Homo sapiens: one gene and its partners. The main gene of each other region encodes a partner of the protein of the gene in region 2 in a complex. Each region holds a gene or a part of one and is shown on either strand. Other genes may lie near its edges. The genes, in order: MED13, CDK8 and MED12. A codon is read from its position in the direction of its gene.

Region 1 (7,107 bases), on a different chromosome or scaffold from region 2:
ATCCCTTATTCGAAATGCTTGGGACCAGAATTGTTTCCATTTTTGGATTTTTTCAAATTGGAGATGCTCAATCTGTTTCAACTGCATATATGGAAATTTAGAGCTGAGAGAAACTTTATATTACCTCTGTCTAACCTTCTCATTTTCTAGGTGAGCATATTTAAGTTCAGAAAAACTCACCTGTTTAAAGTCATAAATTGGTAATAGACTCAAGACTGAAACCTGGGTCTTTTAATGATTATTATGTTATTCTTTGAATTACATCATACTGCACTGCTGTTATGCTGCATTATTTTGGGGAATAAAAGATTTATAATCTTGGGCTGGGCGCAGTGGCTCATGCCTGTAATCCCAGCACTTTGGGAGGCTGAGGCAGGTGGATCACAAAGTCAGCAGTTTGAGACCAGTCTGGCCAACATGGTGAGACCCCGTTTCTACTAAAACTACAAAAAAATTAGCCAGGCGTGGTGGCACGTGCAAATTAGCTATTTGGGAGACTGAGGCAGGAGAATCACTTGAACCCGGCAGGTAAAGGTTGCAGTGAGCCGAGATCGCGCCACTGCACTCCAGCCTGGGTGACAGAGTGAGATTCCATCTCAAAACAAACAAACAAAAAAAAGATTTATAATCTTTGTAATACTTGATTTTTAGTTTCATTTACTACTTAAAAAAGTTTTTCTAGCTGTGTGTAGATTGCTGTGTTAAAAAAAAACTGAGTGGTTTTTAAATACAGTAATGAGACTCTCAGATTCATCGTGATTTATTACAACAAACTCAGGCTGGGCACAGCGATTCACCCCTATAATCCCAGCACTTTGGGTGGTCGAGGCAGGAGGATCACTTGAGGCCAGGAGTTTGTGATCAGCCTGGACAACATAGTGAAATTTTGTCTCTCTAAAAAGTTTTTAATATTAGGCATGGTGGCATGTGCCTATAGTCCTAATAACATGAAAAGCTGGGGCAGGAGGGAGGATCGCATGAGCACAAGAGGTTGAGGCTGCAGTGAGCCATGATCATGCCACTGCACTCCAGCTAGGTGACAGGAGACCCTCTCTCAAAAAAACAAAACCGAATTTGTTAGTAAGCAATGTAACATGAAGTGGAGATAAGTCACAAAATGAGATATAAAAGCCCTATACAGAATTATATTACTGCTGCTAATATTGTTCCAGAATAACAAATTTAGATGTGACTCACTTATTCTTTTTTTTTTTTTGAGACGGAGTCTCGCTCTGTCGCCCAGGCTGGAGTGCAGTGGCGGGATCTCGGCTCACTGCAAGCTCCGCCTCCCGGGTTCACGCCATTCTCCTGCCTCAGCCTCCCAAGTAGCTGGGACTACAGGCGCCCGCCACTACGCCCGGCTAATTTTTTGTATTTTTTTAGTAGAGATGGGGTTTCACCGTTTTAGCCGGGATGGTCTCGATCTCCTGACCTCGTGATCCGCCCGCCTCGGCCTCCCAAAGTGCTGGGATTACAGGCGTGAGCCACCGCGCCCGGCCGTGACTCACTTATTCTTATGTAAAACCACCGGAAGTTGACTGTTTTTAATCCACAAGTCATGCTAATTTAAATACTTGCTGCCGGGTGCAGTGGCTCACACCTGTAAACCCAGCACTTTGGGAGGCTGAGGCAGGCAGATCACCTGAGGTCAGGGATTTTCTATATACTAGTAGTCTTTGGTGTCTCCACAAAACAAAGGATTCTTTGGTCCTTTGGGAGGGTGCTACACATGCTATCTGTCCTCTTTTCTAGTCATAATACATGTATGCACACTAAAGTCTGAAAAACAGAGGTAAATAAGATAGTTTACCTAGCATTTCCCAAACTTATTAATACACAAGGAAAGGATTATTTAACACCTGTTAATAGTTTATTATCTTAGTGTTTCAGGGGATGTGTTCAGGAAACACAACTTTACAAAAAGTCCAAGGGACTATCTAGAGCTTTTCCTACTCAGTATTTATTTGCAGAAAGGATAGTATAAAGCGGGCATTCACCCTTAGATACATTGTAACAAGATTAGGACTTCTGGTTATGAACTATCACCTAAGGCATAATTTACCATACTTTTTGTTCACTTTTTTTTTTCATATATCTTATTTTAGTTTTATACTGTAGGCAGTAAAGCCACCTGGTTTGTTTCTCTTTGCTTGGAAATATAATGGGTTGTTAGCTAGATCCCTTTTTATCATAGGAATAGAGTACTGGTACTAATTACATTTTAAAAATTTGTAGTGATTTGCAGTGTGAGACTTGCTTATAACTCCATAAATCAAGAGTTTGTAGACAGTTGAAACATAGCTATTTTTGGTTATATTCCTAAATGTACTACATGAGTTTCTATATGTATTGCAGTTGCAGAGGAGAGAACACCTAAATATAAAATAGTACCTTATACAGTGTACAGAATGAGATCTACCAAGAGTTACTGCAGTGAACATCACCATTGTTTTATCATAGCTTTTTAATACTATATTGACTTATAAAAAAAATGACTCATTTAATTGGAGTGTGGAGTAGTTTATTCCTTTCTCCCACTATTCATTGCCATATCTAAATGAGTGTGCCAGTTTTTACCTACCCTCTATTATGAAATTGAGTGGGCAAAGCAGGCATCTGTGCACTGTATTACTTAGAGTGTTCTCAGTTCAACCGAAGATAGCTTGTTTAAGGTTTATTGTGCTGTAACCAAACTATTTGCTTATGCTTATTCCTGTTACTTTTTTCAGTGCTAGACGTAGGTATGTCTGCGTAGTCATAAAGGGTGTCATATATCTTAAGGACAGACTACTCAGGTTTAACTACTCAATTTAGTGCCTCCTTAAACATTTACTTTGCACATCTAGGCAAATTAGACTTAGCAGGTAATTAGAAATTCTTTTTCTAAGGATTATTGTATGGTCTCAAAAACAATAAAGCTAAAGAAAAGGAAATAGATTCAAAGTAAGTTTTGCACTTAAAAATCACTTCTGGCTAGGCACAGTGGCTCATGCGTGTAATCCCAGCACTTTGGGAGGCCAAGGCAGGAGGATTGTTTGAGGCCAGGAGTTCAAGACCAGCCTGGTCAACAGAACAAGAACCTGCCCCTACTTAAAAAAAAAAAAAAAAACATTTCTATAATGAATTAGTTAAAAGAGAACAAGCATTTTTATAGTGGCTTTCATTCATAACATAGGACTAAAATGTATTTCATCATTTTATAAGATATATTGGGAGAATAAGGTAAAACTAAATAGCAGATTATTTTCTGTTTGGCTGACTGATTGATTACCTGTTACCTTCTTAGGCCTCTTTGCACCTCCACGTGCCTTCAGTGCAATCTGACGAGCTGCTTCACAGTAAACACTCCCACCCACTTGACTCAAATCAGACTTCAGATGTCCTCAGGTACAACTCTTTTACCATTAACAGTTTGTCACTGCAACTTTAAAAGAATATAATGTTGATTCTTATATATTTTTCTCATTTTTGGCAAGAATTTACAGTTGTGTACCAGTGGATCTCTAGATAAACACTGCTATTCTAACTTGAGTAATCTACTTTTGAGAATAATTTTTATGGAAATTGCTTCTTTCCCCTCAAGGACTCTCTGTTACACTCTTTTTTAAGGTGACTTTGAGTCTTAAATGCCATAATTGAAAACTGCTTCCAAAATCTAGGTTGGAAATAAATAAATGACTTATGCAGTTTATTTGCTTTTCAGGTTTGTTTTGGAACAGTACAATGCACTCTCCTGGCTAACCTGTGACCCTGCAACCCAGGACAGACGCTCATGTCTCCCAATTCATTTTGTGGTGCTGAATCAGTTATATAACTTTATTATGAATATGCTGTGATCTTCATTTGATGGAACTGTGCAAGAAAAGAACAAGGAAAAATGGATGTTTCGCTGCAGGATTAAGTTACAATTATCTTCTCAGTGAAGGTCATTTGTGATGGGGTCTAATTCTTATTACTTCAACAAATATTGTTTTGACTTGGGGGGAGGGGCTATAACCCTGCTATTTTTCATTGACTCTATTGAACTCTTTAGGATGATGACTGATCATACAAAACGTATTATAACATTTTCGTAGCAAAATTAACCTTTTTTTTTTCCAGTCACAGTATTTGTGAAAAGTAATGAGCCATAGTACCCAGTCATGTTAAATGAATATTAAAAGCATGGAGAGGAAACATGAGGAACAATGAATTTCAACATATGGCTTCAGAACATGAAGATGTTCTTGTATGGATTATAGTATCTAGTATTCAAAAATGCCTGCATCTCTTCTCTTATTTATTGTAAGTTTTTAAATGTATAAATTGTCTTATATTTCTTAACCTCTTTTATAAAAATTTTCCTAGAAGGTTTATACTGCCTTCTTGCTTTAAAGCAATTGGTCTAAAATATATGTAATCGTCTTAATTAAAAAGTTGCAGTAGGGTTGCTTTTAGAGTATTATTTTTTTGTAAGGGGGTGGGTGGGACAGTAAATTTGTATTGTCTCGATGTACAGTTTAACGGGGATAGAGGGGGAATAATGTCCATACCATTGTGTGTGGAGGATTTACAGCTAAGCTGTAGTTGCAGAGTACATGTACAGTAATGAAGTTCACTGTGTTTATAAATTGAAAAGGTACCAGGTCTTACAGCATTTTATATATCACATCTTTACAGAATAACATGATGGCAATATACAAGTGGTATTGTTAGGTGGTTTAACTTAGAATAAAATGAGAATTCTTCAGTTATATTTTGTACTATGGTTTAGGGCTATGACTAATATTTCAGGCCATTTCCGGTGAAAGAAACTTAGTTTTACAAGAAAAACCATTTGCTACTGAATGCTTAAACTAATTTTAGTGTTTAATGTTACATGCTTAAATTTTTTTCAGTTTTAACAGTGGCATATTTAGGCATGGAAATATTATTATGAAATTTATTTTCAGGATCTGCTATAAGGTTGAAATTTAGCCCAGCTCTAGGCATTTTACAAATTATTTTTCAAGCAGTCATTCTTGATTGTTTGACTTTTTTTTTTAAATTAAAGATTGGGAATGTATGTGAGAGTATGCATATGTATGGGTGTGTGTGTGTGCGCGCAATCAAACTGTGGTGTAAATAGATTCTCAGTGAATTCTGGTATTCAGACTCTATTCCACTAGTGAAAGAACCATTTTTTAAACTTCCCTTGCCTTTTTTATTTATTTAATTTTCTTGGTTTGGAGATGTCAGTCCCAAACACCAGAGTCTGTACTTTTCTATAACACAGCTCAGATTAAGGTAGGGCATATGCCAAGGAGGTTCTCACCTCCCTAAAGAAGGGACTTGAATTTTAGGGACTTTAATTCACCCCTCCTTCAATACAACTTTCCCCCTTCTTGTTTGCACATGCCAAGATAACTGCTTTTATGCAGGCTGTACCCCCTTGAAAAATCCTTTCTACAGTGCTGCTCACAAAAGAGCCCAAGTTCGCCTCCTACCTGCATTGCTGACTTGAATTCACAGTCGCCGAGTCTACCTAGCTTTCTTGGAAGCAGTCTAGCAAAATTTCTATTTGTACGTTCACTAATTATCTACAAGGACAAAATCAGTTGTATTTACAAAACTCTACTTCAGTGTTTGTTTTAGTTTTTTTTTTTACTGAAACTTGTTTTTGTGAATACTCTGTGCTTAGAATTAAATATCACTTTCTTATGAACAACATAACTTCTTCAGATTGTGTATATGAAAACATTAGCAAGTCTTGTTTTTTCTATGAAGCAAACACAATTGGTGACAAAGGTTGTCAATCATTTCTTCAAAATTATAATGCAGTTCTAATGGTCAGCATATTTTGATATTAAATTTAAAGATCACCTCTCTGCATTTGTTTTTAAATTATGCTAATACACCACACATTATGTTGGTATGTTTTGTTCTGTACTTTCTTTAAAAAAAAAAAAAAAACTTGTCTGAGATTTGAAGGAAAATGTGCTTATTTGGAATTTCCATAAAAAGAGTATCCTTTTTATACACTTAATAGTGACTTTACAAAATAAAAGTTATATTCTCAGTTGTTTAAAATCACTAACCTATGATAACCACACCTCAATTTGAAAGTAGATTTAAAATTATTCCCTGACAGGTTATTTAATATGGAGCCATAAGGAGGGAACCCAGTACACAATTATTTTTTATTTGGGAATCAGGGAATAGTTCCCAAATATACAGGATTTATTGATAAGATTTTTTTTCTTCCCTTCATATATCCATTCAAACTCAATGGAAAGTTATTAAATAACCATTAGAAAAGCTCAGTAGACTTATTTGAGAAATTAAGCCTTGTGCAGGATGATGGATTTGACTTACTAATGTACTGTCACAGACAAATATGGGTAGTTTTGTTTAAATAGGTAAGCAAAATATTATACTTTATAGCAGTGGATTACCAACACCTTGACTTCTTTGTTACAGTGCTAACATCTTTTTTTTTGTGCAGGTATCCATGATTATTAAGCAGGGTGGAAGTTCAGTATTTTGTCATTTAAAAAGATTAGTTATATAATGTCTGCTTCCAGCCAGTGAGAAACATCTAGCCATACCTTTCTTATGCAAGCCATTGAGTTATCAGGACTGTGAATTAACACTGTATGAATAAATTTCTGTACACCTTATTGTTTGGCCAGAAGGCCACCAAGTGTACTTATATGTAATCCTTAAATTTTAAAGTAGCTGTAATTTTTAAATATTTCTAAACTTTTCTTAAACCACTAAAATTAAGCTCTTACTACTTAGTCAACTATCCTCAGCTGTATTCGTACTCAATTGTCAGTATGGCACAGATTACTGTATTAAAATATTCTCCTTTCGTCTTCATATTTACCTTCTGAGGTAATTTTTTAACTTAATGTGTTACTACAAAGATTTGCAGATCTTTAATCAAGCACTATGTTAATACTGTAATATCAGAATACTATGTTGCATTATTTAAAATGTTCAAATTGAATAGATTAAAAAGTTTTTAAATGCTATTGCATCATATAATTTGCTATTCATCCACTATGGCATTGCATATCAATCAGTTAATACACTTAATGTTGCATGAGTGATATTTTGGTCTGGGTTTCCTCTTAAGATTTTAGT
Region 2 (7,609 bases):
TTCATCCATCCATCCATTTACCCATCTATCATTCATCCATCCATCCATCCACCCATCTATCTATCCATCCATTCATTCATCCATCTATCATCTATTCACCCATCTATATATCCATTATCCATCTGTTCATTCATCTATTCACCCATCTATCTATCCATTCATTCATCTAACTATTCATCTATCTATCTATCTATCTATCTATCTATCTATCTATCTATCTATCTGTCTAATCTGTCTACCTATTTGTCCATCCATCCATTCATTCCTCTATCTTCTATCTATCCATCAATTCACTCATCTATCTATCCATTCATTTATCTATCTATCTATCTAGCTATCTATCTATCTATCTATGTCACCATCCATCCATCCATCCATCTTGCCTCCTACAATTAATTCTTCACATAGCACCAGGATATTCTTTTTAAAGCATAAATCACATCTGGTCACTCCCCTCCTTATAACCTTCTGAAAGGTTGCCTGCAAATAAAACCCAAACGCCTTGCTATGGTCAAAAAGGCCATATATAATCTGGTCCCTGTCTACCTCTCTGTCTTCACCTCACACAATTTCACCTCTTACTCATTATATTCTTGTCATCTTTCTGTTCCTTCATTCCCAGCTTTGCCTTTTGCACTTGCTGTCTGTTTAATCTGCCTGGACTACTCTGCTCCCTCATCCACAGCAGATTTTGTTTCTCAACCTTCAGGTCTCTGCTTAAGCATTGTCTCCTTAGAGAAACCTTGACCGTCTACCAATCTAAAGGAATTTCCTCCTGGTCTCACTTTCTATCACATTGTCCTGTTTTATTTCCTTTATAATACTTAGGGCATTCTTCCTCCTGTGAGCTCCCTACCCCCATCTCCCTCATGCCCCCTAATAAAGGAGCTCTCATATTCTTGCATGGTCCTGTCCCTGTGGCTACACTTAGTTGGCCTAGGACGGGCCTGACTCAGCCATACCAGAGCCCTTCTTGGGATTTTTAGAACCAGAATTGAGAAACAGTCAATTCTTCGCTAATGAAAGCCATTGTCTGACGTAAAATTCAGCAACTATTGGTGGTCATGTTTCCCGTTGTGTGGAGGAAATGAGTCCACAAAGGCAAATGATACCCACATGGTGAAGGGGAGAAGAGTAAGATATTTTTGAAAGTATTTTTTATATTCTGGTTATTTCTAAGGTCTAAATTATATTCTGGATGCTTGCAGAGTTAGTAAGGATACTTTTTGCATCTATAGTTTCTTTGAAAATTTTTTAAAAATCAGGCCAGAAAGACAGAGTGAAAAAAATGAAATATTAAAAAAAAGCTCTTGGATTGATTAATCTAACTTGTTCTTCCTTGTGTCGAACACTGTGCTCACATGTAGATGGTTAATATGTGCGGGATGAACGTGCCACCTGTAGAATGAGAGGTTACATGCTTTCCACTGAAAGCATGCCTTAATACTGAGTGAGAAAGTGGAAGTCAAAGTTGTAGAGACTGCAGTGATTAACTATGAGAAGAGCCACTTGGGCTTTTACATTAATATATCATGAAGCACTCAGTCCTTTTGCAGCTATAAAAAGCCCTTTTTAGAGGCAAGACTGAGGCAAGATACTAAATGTTTTACAATGACTGTCCTCTGACAGGTGGAGACCTTTATTATTATTAATGTCCATTTCAACATTTATTGAAATCAATCCAATGAAACACATTCTAATGAAATATAATTACGCAAACAATATGTGCTTGGAACTGTAGGGGATATATAGATGATTAAGGCAGGAACTCAGTCACTAAATTTATTAAGGGGCAGATTTTTTTAATCGCATAAAATAAATGATTAAAATACAAGGTAGCTATAATGAGTTACAAATAAAGTGCAATGGTGCCAGGGCTGGGGTAGAGGTTCATGATAAAGAAAGGTCATATCTAGTTGCAAGAACTGGGAAAGACTTCATGACCAAATTAAGCACTTGGGGGATGGGTAGGACTGTAAAGGTCAGAGATGGTATGAGGAAGCATCTTAGCCCTTAAGAACCTTAAGAACACACAAAAGGAGACACTTAAAACTAAATATTAGATGCTGCTGTTCCTAGCATTAGCCATGCTCTCCTATAAGGGGCCCTTAGTGGCTATCTCTTTCTCAGCTCCCCATCCTGATACCATTTTACAGGGTCAGCTTACCTCCTACCACCATATTCCTCCAACCTAGTGTCTAGGCCTCTAACTCTCACCCTGGCTTCAAAGAGAAAAGCAGATCTTGCTCTTCCCTAGTCCAAGGTTAGCTTCTTTTCCTGCCCCCAGGAAAAGACTGACAGTCAGGACTGACATTCAGGATACTCAGTTGACAGTGAGGACACTCAATTCCTTCAGGGAGAGTTCACCTTCACCCAGAGTGAAGCCAGCCAAAACAGTGTATAAAAGTACATTTTTAAAAGTCTGAGGCCAGGTATGTGGCTCATGCCTGTAATCCCAGCACTTTGGGAGGTTGAGACAGGAGGATCACTTGAACCCAGGAGTTAAAGACCAGCCTGGGCAACAGAGCGAGACTCCGTCTCTCAAAAAAAAAAAAAAAAAAAAAACTTAGCTGGGTGTAGTGGCACATGCCTGTAGTCCCAGCTACTCAGGAGGCTGGGGAGGAGAATTGTTTGAGCCCAGGAGTTCAAGGTTGTAGTAAGCTGTGATCGCATCACTGCACTCCAGCCTGGGTGACATAGCCAGACCCTGTCTCAAAATAAAAACACAAAAAGACAAACAAAAAAGGTCTGAGACCTTCAGTGTTCCAGAATAGTGTGTATAATTGGTACAGGAGGTGGGGAAGGGGGACCCGATACAGTGTAGGGGCAAGCTGAGTCCCATGCCTCTTCACAACTTTTCCTCCAGTGTGGTAGTTTGATTTCTCAAGATCCATGAGTAAATATGTGCACAAAAGACACATCCCTCAAAAAATACAAAATACATTGTCTAAGGAAGAATCTTTTAAATCCATATTCAGAAAATGATGTAATTCTTTAAGGATGCAAATGAGCAGTTCTGCTAGAGAGTTACCCAATTTTCATCACTGAATGGAAACAAATAATATGCCATTAATGAAAGCCTACATTTGTTTTGTGCTTTGCACTTTGCAAAGAAAAAATTCTAGGCTCCAAGAACACATTAGTAAATGACAATGCAGGATTCAAACCCAGTATAGTAAAATACTCAATACTTATATAGTATGCTAGGTAAAAACAATTTAATTTTACACAGTGGTGAAGTCACTAATTTTCTCCAAGGAAAATTATATAAGAGAAAGCCCTTTGGAGGCTTTTTCACAAGATGATATCATCATCATCATCATTGGTATATGGATCTTTTTGAGATAAACATGTTTATTCATTCATTAATTTAACAAGTGTTTACTGTGCATCATTATCAAGGCATGACACTAGGTTTTACAGAAGATGCAAATATGACTTCCTATAACAACTTAGGATCTAGCAAGGTAGAGGAAATAAAAGATGAAAGGAATTTGATAAATATCACAGGAAAGGTGGGAAAAAAAGTGTTAAAAAGTTCACATTAAAACTGCAAAGTTCATATTCCCTTTGGGAAGTGGGGAGCTTTAGTGGAAATGGTAACAATTGGAAAACCAAAAATTAAAAATAGACAAGGGGGGTAAGATAAAATGATAGATTAGTATCAAGATACCAGGACTCCTGAAGCAGGACATATTGCTACCTTAAGATTATTAACAAACTAGTTCCCATGGATTTAGATCCTTTCTGTAATCATAGCTAGAAACTGGTGTTCTTATAGGTAGTATCGCAGAAGGCTGTACTGTACTCAATACTTCCTGTATATGGATAGGAAAGGTTTGGATGGTCATCTGTCACAAGAGTAACAATGTTTAGGAGTAGCTTGGACACTGGTCATTGATTCACTTTTATTGGTGCTTGTAATGTCAGTATGTTGACATCATTGTGCAGCCCTTATCAGATTGTGAACACCAAGAGTACCCCAACTGCTGGCCCGCGAGCTGTTTACAAATATCATACCGGCTTTTATCGATGATAGTGGCCTTTAAAATCTGGAGTTCAGAGTGGCACAAAATGTGTTTCTAATGCAAACGACTCTCCTTCCCACGTGCACCTCTTTGATCAAGTTTGTGGCTGAAATCAGACTCTAGTTAGATCGCTGTAAAAATAAAAATAAATTTTCCCCAAATGATTGAAACGAATTTCACCCTAGACTACGAGTCCCATCATGCAACGCTCCCATATTCCCACCGTGTGGGGCGGAGTCGTAGAAGGGGCGGCAGCGGCGGCGGCCTGTGCATTCTGGGTATTGTAGTCTGGGGCCCGGCCACCGCTGGGGCTGGTTCCACGTGGTGCATTTGGCGGCAGCTTTGGGCAGTGGCTCCCCTGCTCCCTCCACACGGTCCTCAGGGTGCCAGCGCCAGCAGGGGCGGCCAGCCACCGCGGGAGCGGGCTAGAGTGTGGCCCGGAGGCAGCCCGAGGCTTCGCGACGTTTTTGCGACAGCCGCGGCCGTGTTCCGCGAGTGCCCTCCCTCCTCCTCTCTTTGAGGAGGTACCGGCTGTTGTGCGGCTCTGCCCTTCTGTTTGAGTGTATGGGAGAGTGAGTGAGTGAGTGAGTGTGAGCGTGTGTGTGAGAGCGTGAGGCGTGAGTGCGCGTGTGAGAGGACGAGAGCCCGCCTGGCCGCCCCGCCGCTCCCGCCGCAGCAGGAGCAGAACGCGCGGCCGGAGAGAGCGGCGGAGCCGGCGCCCAGGGAGCCCGCGGGGACAAGGGCAGAGACACCGCTCCCCACCCCCAGCCCTCGTCCCTCGGCTCTCCTTCGCCGGGGGATCCTCCCCGTTCCTCCACCCCCGGCCGGCCTCTGCCCCGCCGTCCCCCTGGATGTCCCTGGCGCTTTCGCGGGGCCTCCTCCTGCTCTTGCCGCATCAGTCGGGCTGGTGCTGCGGCCGGCGGGCGTAGAGCGGGCGGGTTCCCGGGGGCTGCGGCTGCCCGTGCTTCCCCGGTCCCCACCCCTGCCCCCCGGCCCCCCGACCCAGCTCTCCGGCCTCAGAGGCTGTGACAATGGACTATGACTTTAAAGTGAAGCTGAGCAGCGAGCGGGAGCGGGTCGAGGACCTGTTTGAATACGAGGGCTGCAAAGTTGGCCGAGGCACTTATGGTCACGTCTACAAAGCCAAGAGGAAAGATGGGTGAGTGTGTGTGTCTGGGCCGGTGTCCGCGCTGGGCGGCGCTCCCGCAGGCCGAGGCAGGTAGCCCGGAGGGAGAGCGGGCCGCCGGGGTGCCGGGCTCTGACTTCCTCGACGCCGGCCTCTGGCTCCGCCAGCCAGGTTTGGGGAGGAAGTGGTGTACGAGGGATCCAAACCCACGAGAAATCCTGCGTGCCGCGTCTGTGTTCTGCTCTGGTGGTAAGAGGCAAGATGAGCCTCTGCACCGTGGGCTGTATACTTTTCAAGGATTTCAAAGCTGATTCATGAAAAAATTCGTTCTAAAACGCCGGGTTAAATGTTTTTTGTTTTTTTTTTTCCTTGGTCGATTTATTATGGTAACCTTCTGGGGATTTCCTCACCCGCCTCTGGAGTGTCATCCATCGGTCTAGAAGGAAGGCTGTGATCCTTTCCCCCACCAGTTTGTGATCGATTTTTTATCAAATTTGTATTTTATTTGAGGAAAGGAAGGCAGCGAGTGAATGTGGTTCTGGAGAGAGTTCCCCATAGTGATCATCTGCAACATAAATGTTGCAATTGCTATTTAGATATTATTAGCTGTGAATTTTTACATAGAACAATGGGGGTTTGGTGCAGGGTGGGTGGTGGGGAAGAAGGCAAGTGACATAGGGACTATCTCGTTCAGGCGGTTTCCCCCAAATTTAGCGGCTGGCAGTGAACTTTAAATAATCCCTTTGCTTTAAATATTCTTCCCTAGTAACAACTTAATTAAACCTATGACTGGTAATGCTTCCAATTTAGTTTCTTAACAGGCAAGTGAATTGTTCATTTTTTCTCTTTGTCAGTAGATGAATGTCTTGTAATATTGACAAAAGAGAAGGCAATTCTTAGTTGGGGGGAAAATATATTTTATTAACTCCATGTTTTCTTGTAAAATGGATGTTGTCTCTGTTGCCTTTGACAGAATAGAAAATTATTGAAAAGTCAAAGCTTATTATATAATCCTTGGATTTTATTAGAAACGAAGTAGCTTTACTTGAGCATCCCAGTTTAGTCACCTGCTGTATGATGTTTAATCACTTAAAATTTCCAATTAGGTAGGAGAGTATGTTCAGACTACATTAGCACGAAAAAAAAATTCATAAAGCTGAAGTTCCCTACTGTGGGGTAGGGGGGCGCATATTTACAAATACTTTAGTATTCTGGATGTTGGAAAGGAAAGTGTATATTTATTGGACATTTTTCTTAGATTTACTGAAATGTCTTTCTAAAAGTATTTACAATGGACTCTACGAGGAAGATAGGAGTTCTAATTAATTTAGAATGTGTATTTTAGTGCTTTTATGCAACAGTAAAGTGGAACAGATCGGCAGAAGGTAGGGATTTGGATTTGAAAACTTGATATTCTGGGCGCCGCACGTATTTAAAAGTACTTTTTAGCGGAATGGATAGTCTGGTGACACTGGAGAAATCAGCGTCTGGAGATATTGCTGACTCTGTTGTTGTCTAATTAGACTTATTGTTGAAGTTTTACTCTGTAATGACATATATTTTTAAAATTATGTTTGTTAACTCACCATACAATATTTCTCAAAAGCTTTAAACCATCTCCCCTTCCCCCAGTATTATGTAATTTTGGGCATATTCATAAAATCCCCAATCCCATGAGATTAGACATTACAGTACATTTGACCAAACTGACATGTTATATAAAATTCTAGCGCCTTTGCATTATTTTTAATCTGTGTGAGAGAAGCCGGTTCTGTTTTCATAAATTACCAATTTAAGCTAATAAAATATGCATATTTGTTTTAACGTTGTACATTTTATTAGAAAACTAATACTGTGTATTGGCAGGGGGTACTTAAGCACATTTTATATCTCTATGGTCAGGTTTTAATTTAGGCCGTTAAGAATAATTTGAAAGAATAATTTCAATATCTTTGAATTTAAAGATAGTTGAAGGTATAATGTATGGACATTCTTAGTCATCTGTGACAGCTGAAAAGTAACATTGCATTTTGGAAAAAAGAACTTATTATTTGTAATCCTTGGAGTTTGTTTTCCATCAGTCTTTAATGATTCTCTTTATGTGATGAACTTCTATTTTTAATGGATCAAATGTCAAGAGAGTTTTAAAATTACTATCTTTTAGAGATAGTTTTAGAGAGTTTTAAAATTACAGGGATTTTTTTCGGTTTGACTTCTCTTTGTAACCTCACTCTGGTAAAGTATCGCATAGTATTTATGAGGTTCTTTTGATCTTATGTCAGTGAAATGTAATTTAATGCATTTTAGTCCTGGTAAAATAAAATTTGTGGCTGTTTAATCTTTCATAATAAGATGATGATCAAATAATTTGTTTCTAGTATTGATTTACTTTCAAATTACATTATATATTCTGCAGCTGAGATTTGTTCTCTAGGAACTCAGACAGTAACACCTT
Region 3 (7,107 bases), on a different chromosome or scaffold from region 2:
AGGAAGAATAAAATGTTAGAGCAGGGTCCCCTGGAGAGAACTAGGGGCTCTGATGGTCGTGTCTTCACAGTACTCTGGGGAATTTGTTCAGTCTGCATACCTGTCCCGCCGGCTTGCCTACTTCTGTACACGGAGACTGGCCCTGCAGCTGGATGGTGTGAGCAGTCACTCATCTCATGTTATATCTGCTCAGTCAACAAGCACGCTACCCACCACCCCTGCTCCTCAGCCCCCAACTAGCAGCACACCCTCGACTCCCTTTAGTGACCTGCTTATGTGCCCTCAGCACCGGCCCCTGGTTTTTGGCCTCAGCTGTATCCTACAGGTAGGTACTAGGCGGGCCCAAGGAAGCATTGAGAGATAGCCTGAGAAGAATCAGGTGCCCATCCCAGAGAATAGGGGTAATTCCAAATTGGATGTGGGAGTAGGTGCTGAGTACTTGCTTGGAGGTTGTTGTTTCTTGGTAATGGGGTGTTAGTCCCCTTTGGGGGTTTTCACCAGCCTCTCTCTCCCTTCCAAGGCTAAATAGTGGGCCCAAAGCCTTTTAGGAAAGTGAGTGAAGGGAGGGGATCGGGGTGGAGTGATGCCTGTCTTGGGGACCCAGTCAGAATAACTTTGGATCTGGAATCTACGGGTTGGGTCTTAGAATGGGATTCCAGAGGGGTAACCATGGTGAATGAGTTGGACTTAGCTGTTTCTATCTGGTAGACCATCCTCCTGTGCTGTCCTAGTGCCTTGGTTTGGCACTACTCACTGACTGATAGCAGAATTAAGACCGGCTCACCACTTGACCACTTGCCTATTGCCCCGTCCAACCTGCCCATGCCAGAGGGTAACAGTGCCTTCACTCAGCAGGTATGTCTGACCACTAGCCTGGTACTCTCAGATTGGGCTATGAGGCTAAATTACTCTTTCAGAAGTAGTGATTTGGAGTCTAGTACTATTCTTCTAGCCTGGGGCTCTGGCCTTTTATATGCCTTGGTACATCCTTGTAGCCTTCCTTTTTAACATTGCAGGTCCGTGCAAAGTTGCGGGAGATCGAGCAGCAGATCAAGGAGCGGGGACAGGCAGTTGAAGTTCGCTGGTCTTTCGATAAATGCCAGGAAGCTACTGCAGGTATGTGTCAGAGAACAGATAATAGGAAATATGTTTGAGGAAAGGATGGGGATAGTAAGGACATGTAGATCTAAGAGCCAGAATGCACCGGGCCTCTGGTTCAGTCCCCTTTACCACTTTTCCTCCTTAGGCTTCACCATTGGACGGGTACTTCATACTTTGGAAGTGCTGGACAGCCATAGTTTTGAACGCTCTGACTTCAGCAACTCTCTTGACTCCCTTTGTAACCGAATCTTTGGATTGGGACCTAGCAAGGATGGGCATGAGGTAAGCGAAAAGGGGAATAGAAGGAGCAAAAAACATTGCAAGAGCAATAATATGTCTGAGAGGGAAGTCATGGTGAGGCATTGAAAGCAGAGCATATCTGCAGAAATGATCTTACTGGGCCCAGGATGTTTTATGATAGAGCCCAGTCTTTAGGAAATTGGAACTCATTTCTTTGTCCCCACCCCTACCTTACTCCTCCTTCTCTTCCTTTGTTCTCCAGATCTCCTCAGATGATGATGCTGTGGTGTCATTGCTATGTGAATGGGCTGTCAGCTGCAAGCGTTCTGGTCGGCATCGTGCTATGGTGGTAGCCAAGCTCCTGGAGAAGAGACAGGCGGAGATTGAGGCTGAGGTTAGAGGGCAGAGATAAGAGAACAAGATTGGCCAATGGGAAGGAATTTACTGCGGTTGGAGACCGAGAGATGGAGGTGGTGGAGGGACCAGAGTTGAAGGTGTGAGAACAGAGTAAAGAAGCAAAAGAGAACCTAAAGGCAAAGTTACGGACGTGAGGCGAAAGTAGAGAAGAGTGGATTGTAGTAAGAGTTAGAGATAACATCAAGGCTTCAGTTGGGAGGTGGTAAAGAACATGGAGGTCAGCAGGGGAATGAAAGTGAAAAGCATGGGGTAGAGGTCAAGCAGGTGGTAGTTTAAGGCCTACACATTGAGGAGTGAAGAAGCAGGTAAAAGTCAGTTCTACAATTTGTTCTGTCATCTTGCAGCGTTGTGGAGAATCAGAAGCCGCAGATGAGAAGGGTTCCATCGCCTCTGGCTCCCTTTCTGCTCCCAGTGCTCCCATTTTCCAGGATGTCCTCCTGCAGTTTCTGGATACACAGGCTCCCATGCTGAGTACGGACCCCTACCACTCTCTAGTTACCTCTGCCTAGACTCAGTTACCCACCACTGTCATCAGAAAGCATAATTAACAGCCCTCTGGTCTATATTTCTCTCTTGGGCTCTATGCAGAATGACTTTTAGATGTAGTTCTAGTGATCCTCTTTAACTGGTCATCTTACAGTTAAACAGAGTAGAGAAATACAGAGAAGGATAAAAACAAGAGCTTGTGATTGAAGCATTTTCACTGCATAAATCGCAACAAAGATGTTACATTCCTTTCTGAGATGATGTGTGGGACAGCATGTGGGGTAACCAACCACACTTTGTCCCTCAACAATTTCTGGGATTTCTATTTGATCACTCTTATTATTGCCTTAGGTGTGTCCCTCTCTCTTTTGGCCCACCTTTTTGTGTTCTCCTAACTTATGTTTCCTCATTCCCTTCCTCCAGCGGACCCTCGAAGTGAGAGTGAGCGGGTGGAATTCTTTAACTTAGTACTGCTGTTCTGTGAACTGATTCGACATGATGTTTTCTCCCACAACATGTATACTTGCACTCTCATCTCCCGAGGGGACCTTGCCTTTGGAGCCCCTGGTCCCCGGCCTCCCTCTCCCTTTGATGATCCTGCCGATGACCCAGAGCACAAGGAGGCTGAAGGCAGCAGCAGCAGCAAGCTGGAAGTGAGTGGGCTTTTCCTTGCACTAGATCGTTTCTTCTGACATTTCCATCTTCATGGCTCCCAGGGGCCTCTAAGAGCCTCTTTTGCCTGGGGGAGGGGGGTAGTATTTTTCTTAGCACTTGGTGATTGACCAAGCACTCTCACATCAATTGTTTCATTGGTTCCTCCCATCAGCCTTGTGAGGTACTCTTATCCCCATTTTCAAACTGAAGAAAACAGAGGCCTATACTGGTTAAGTGATTGGATGAGGCTTGACTCCAGATCCTGTGCTTTCCCCAATCTGGTCTTCTCTCTCCACTTCCCCAATGAAGTTTTACAGATGGTGGGAGCCACTCCCTAGGGCTAAAGCAACTTCGCTTATGTTCTATGCCCTCAGGATCCAGGGCTCTCAGAATCTATGGACATTGACCCTAGTTCCAGTGTTCTCTTTGAGGACATGGAGAAGCCTGATTTCTCAGTAAGTTCAATCCTGAGCGTGGCAGAATCTGGATCCTTGGATCTTCCCATTATGCCTGCTTTTGGCATGTTTTTTTGCCCCCTCATCCACTTTCCTTCTTCTCATGTTCTGCTTTCTCACCTTTCTCTCAGTTGTTCTCCCCTACTATGCCCTGTGAGGGGAAGGGCAGTCCATCCCCTGAGAAGCCAGATGTCGAGAAGGAGGTGAAGCCCCCACCCAAGGAGAAGATTGAAGGGACCCTTGGGGTTCTTTACGACCAGCCACGACACGTGCAGTACGCCACCCATTTTCCCATCCCCCAGGTACTATTCCCCAGCACCTTGTGATGATCTGTTTTGAACCCAGATTGCTGTCAAAGGAATTTGCTGAGGGGTTGGAGCTGTTCTGAGGATGTGGGTTGGGAAAGGGAAGGGCTTTAGCATGTGGATGCTGAGGGGTGTGGAGCATGCTTTCAAGAGGAGGGAAGGAGATCGGTGCTGGAGTCTGATGGTGCTGCTGGGATGCAGGAGGAGTCATGCAGCCATGAGTGCAACCAGCGGTTGGTCGTACTGTTTGGGGTGGGAAAGCAGCGAGATGATGCCCGCCATGCCATCAAGAAAATCACCAAGGATATCTTGAAGGTTCTGAACCGCAAAGGGACAGCAGAAACTGGTGGGTTTGAGGCTCCTTAAACAGATCTCCCCCAAAGAATGCCCTAGTCAGTCTTCCCTTCCCCAGTATAGGGAACTCCCCAGTCATGTCCCAATGTCCTGTCTCTTGGAGTCTCCTGAGAGCTCTAGTCCTTTTGAAACTTCCCCCCTCATTCCCCCCCTCTACAGACCAGCTTGCTCCTATTGTGCCTCTGAATCCTGGAGACCTGACATTCTTAGGTACCTCACAGTAAGCCCCATACTGCCCTCCCTCCCTCTCCCTTCCCTCCCTGAACCTAGCACCTCCCTGTACATATTCCTTTAAGGTCCACATAGTCTGTGGTCCTCTAAACCTTTGCTTCACTGTCCCCTTCCCTTCATTCCTCCCCCATCCCTTCCTTGACCCTCCCTTCCCTGTTTCCCTCTTCCTTCCTTCCCTCCCTCCCTCCTTCCATCTCTCCCTCCCTCCCTCCCATAGCCTTCTCTCCATACCCCACTCCCCACCCCTAGTCAACTAGTTATCTTCCCTGTCTTGACTGGTCCCTTTCAACTGTCCCCTCAGGTGGGGAGGATGGGCAGAAGCGGCGACGCAACCGGCCTGAAGCCTTCCCCACTGCTGAAGATATCTTTGCTAAGTTCCAGCACCTTTCACATTATGACCAACACCAGGTCACGGCTCAGGTGTGGGCCTAAGCCCAGCCCCTTTCCCACATTCTGGCCTCCTGTTCTGTTTTCCTTTTCTTCCCTATCTTCTCCCTGCTAGGCAGGCTAAGCCTCCTGGTCTCATCCCCTTCCAGTGTCATCCTTTCCTCCTTCCCTGGTTCTTTCCTCTCTCCACTCCCATCTCACTCCCACTGCCCTTATCAGGTCTCCCGGAATGTTCTGGAGCAGATCACGAGCTTTGCCCTTGGCATGTCATACCACTTGCCTCTGGTGCAGCATGTGCAGTTCATCTTCGACCTCATGGAATATTCACTCAGCATCAGTGGCCTCATCGACTTTGCCATTCAGGTGGGGAAGTTGGGGAGATGAGGGTGGAGGCAGGAGTTCATGCCATATAGCGGCTACGGAGGGTCATAAGGACAGGCGTAGAGGCTCCAGCCAGTTTCCCAAGCTATTTGAAGGGGCAGAAAGACTAGCATGGGGGGAGTGGAACATGAGCTAAGACTGCAGGAATAGAGACTTAAGTGCTCCCTGGGGAGGCCAAGAGGCAGATTAGAGCATTGGGCACAGACCATCCTCCCACTGTGGAGTTCATAGAACTGTATCCTGGACACTGGTTAGAGGTGTTGTTGATAGAATAAACTATCAACAATAAACTATCAATAGAGGTGTTGTTGATAGACTGTGGCATAGGGTAACGAGCCCTTCTATCCTGTGGTGGCTCCAGCAGGAAGGGGCTCAGGCCCAGCCTTGCCAGCGTCCCCACAGGAAGGTGGTTTCTATGTAACACAAGGGGCCTCTTTGCATTTCTCACCCCCGTTTACTCTGCTAGCTGCTGAATGAACTGAGTGTAGTTGAGGCTGAGCTGCTTCTCAAATCCTCGGATCTGGTGGGCAGCTACACTACTAGCCTGTGCCTGTGCATCGTGGCTGTCCTGCGGCACTATCATGCCTGCCTCATCCTCAACCAGGACCAGATGGCACAGGTCTTTGAGGGGTAAGCAGAGCTTCGGAATAACTGAAACAAAGCTCTGGCGAATGCCGGTGGAAGTGGCCTGGGAAGAGCATGCACTTCCTCACACTCTGGGGAAGCACCTGCTGCTCAGGTGGGAAAAGAATGGTATTTCCCAGAGGCTTGAATCTGTTTGGAGGAGCCCGCATACCATCTGCTGACCCTCCCAACCTTGCTTCTTCATGCAGGCTGTGTGGCGTCGTGAAGCATGGGATGAACCGGTCCGATGGCTCCTCTGCAGAGCGCTGTATCCTTGCTTATCTCTATGATCTGTACACCTCCTGTAGCCATTTAAAGAACAAATTTGGGGAGCTCTTCAGGTAAGAGAGGTGGAAGGTAAGGGGTAGCGAGTGGGACCTACTCCCTTCTTCCCATGACCACCCAACTCAGGAGGAGAGGATGGCCCGGGACCCTGCTGCCTGTCTAGGGTCATTTGTGGACTGTGTCCTCCACATACTGTTGTGTTACCAAGAGTGGGCCCTCTTCCTCAGCAGGCTTGCTCCCCGCCTATATCTGTGGGGCCCACCCTCTTCCCCCTTTTCCTCACTGCCTTCAGAGGCCCCAGTTCCTTATTCCCATGTGGTTCCTTTCCTGCCCAGTCTGTTTTGTCCCATCTCCCTTTTCTTGTCTCAAGATCCTTCATCCCTCACTTTCTCCTTTTTTTCTTTTCTCCCCTTTCCTGACCATCCCTCGACCTCAGCAGGCCTTCTTCAACACTACTATCTCCTTTCCTCCATCCCTGCAGCGACTTTTGCTCAAAGGTGAAGAACACCATCTACTGCAACGTGGAGCCATCGGAATCAAATATGCGCTGGGCACCTGAGTTCATGATCGACACTCTAGAGAACCCTGCAGCTCACACCTTCACCTACACGGGGCTAGGCAAGAGTCTTAGTGAGAACCCTGCTAACCGCTACAGCTTTGTCTGCAATGCCCTTATGCACGTCTGTGTGGGGCACCATGATCCCGATAGGTATGGGGTGTACTGAGTGAGGAAGGGCACCATGCCCCCATCTGAGATAGGGAGGGCTGAGGTACCCGGGAGGTACTACAACCTTGATTATTTAGTGGGGCAGAGATGAGAAGTTAATGGGTCTGAGGTTTTGTGGAGCAAGGTTTTTCCTGAGGGCATTTGTACTTTTCCCTAGGGTGAATGACATCGCAATCCTGTGTGCAGAGCTGACCGGCTATTGCAAGTCACTGAGTGCAGAATGGCTAGGAGTGCTTAAGGCCTTGTGCTGCTCCTCTAACAATGGCACTTGTGGTTTCAACGATCTCCTCTGCAATGTTGATGTGAGACTTGGGGTGGGGTTTTGCTAGTGGGGCAGTGACCAGGGCAGGGGGCTGGTTGTGATCCTCTGACCAGGGACAGAGTTCCGTAGAGTGGAGGCACACCGCTTTGAGTGGGCCTCCACACTGAGTCATGGTGTCTGTCTGTTTTTTCCTCCAGG

What was found.
Region 1: the proteins of CDK8 (region 2) and MED13 are in contact, whole or in part, in a cryo-EM structure (PDB 8TQC), measured with the Homo sapiens proteins. Residues at the interface, in NP_001251.1 of Homo sapiens: Leu9 (codon at 5,084), Glu12 (codon at 5,093), Arg13 (codon at 5,096), Arg71, Lys74, His75, Pro76, Leu81, Gln82, Lys83, Val84, Tyr133, Asp137, His140, Tyr141, Met330, Gln331, Phe335, Leu336, Leu340, Pro341, Thr342, Ser343, Asp344; in NP_005112.2 of Homo sapiens: Thr1616, Met1617, Asp1618, Arg1619, Lys1621, Val1622, Gly1623, Ile1624, Pro1625, Thr1626, Asp1627, Gly1628, Asp1629, Ser1630, Val1732, Lys1733, Thr1734, Leu1735, Thr1736, Gly1737, Phe1738.
Region 3: the proteins of CDK8 (region 2) and MED12 are in contact, whole or in part, in a cryo-EM structure (PDB 8TQ2), measured with the Homo sapiens proteins. Residues at the interface, in NP_001251.1 of Homo sapiens: His143, Ala144, Trp146, Phe180, Asn181, Ser182, Pro183, Pro186, Ala208, Arg209, His210, Thr212, Lys213, Met273, Pro274, Pro320; in NP_005111.2 of Homo sapiens: Pro26, Gln27, Gln31, Glu33, Asp34, Leu36, Asn40, Val41, Lys42, Gln43, Gly44, Phe45, Asn47.

Annotation. Positions count from the first base shown.
Region 1 is NC_000017.11:61,943,197-61,950,303, reverse strand, and holds part of MED13 (mediator of RNA polymerase II transcription subunit 13), read left to right. Parts: intron 1-3,286; coding exon 3,287-3,387; intron 3,388-3,703; coding exon 3,704-3,836; 3' UTR 3,837-7,107. UniProt on the Homo sapiens protein: Component of the Mediator complex, a coactivator involved in the regulated transcription of nearly all RNA polymerase II-dependent genes.
Region 2 is NC_000013.11:26,249,583-26,257,191, forward strand, and holds the start of CDK8 (cyclin-dependent kinase 8), read left to right. Parts: upstream 1-4,546; 5' UTR 4,547-5,059; coding exon 5,060-5,187; intron 5,188-7,609.
Region 3 is NC_000023.11:71,121,492-71,128,598, forward strand, and holds part of MED12 (mediator of RNA polymerase II transcription subunit 12), read left to right. Parts: intron 1-70; coding exon 71-325; intron 326-708; coding exon 709-855; intron 856-1,016; coding exon 1,017-1,116; intron 1,117-1,246; coding exon 1,247-1,383; intron 1,384-1,603; coding exon 1,604-1,735; intron 1,736-2,102; coding exon 2,103-2,229; intron 2,230-2,667; coding exon 2,668-2,897; intron 2,898-3,272; coding exon 3,273-3,353; intron 3,354-3,484; coding exon 3,485-3,655; intron 3,656-3,859; coding exon 3,860-4,004; intron 4,005-4,171; coding exon 4,172-4,222; intron 4,223-4,544; coding exon 4,545-4,663; intron 4,664-4,849; coding exon 4,850-4,993; intron 4,994-5,477; coding exon 5,478-5,641; intron 5,642-5,844; coding exon 5,845-5,976; intron 5,977-6,401; coding exon 6,402-6,629; intron 6,630-6,804; coding exon 6,805-6,949; intron 6,950-7,106; coding exon 7,107-7,107. UniProt on the Homo sapiens protein: Component of the Mediator complex, a coactivator involved in the regulated transcription of nearly all RNA polymerase II-dependent genes.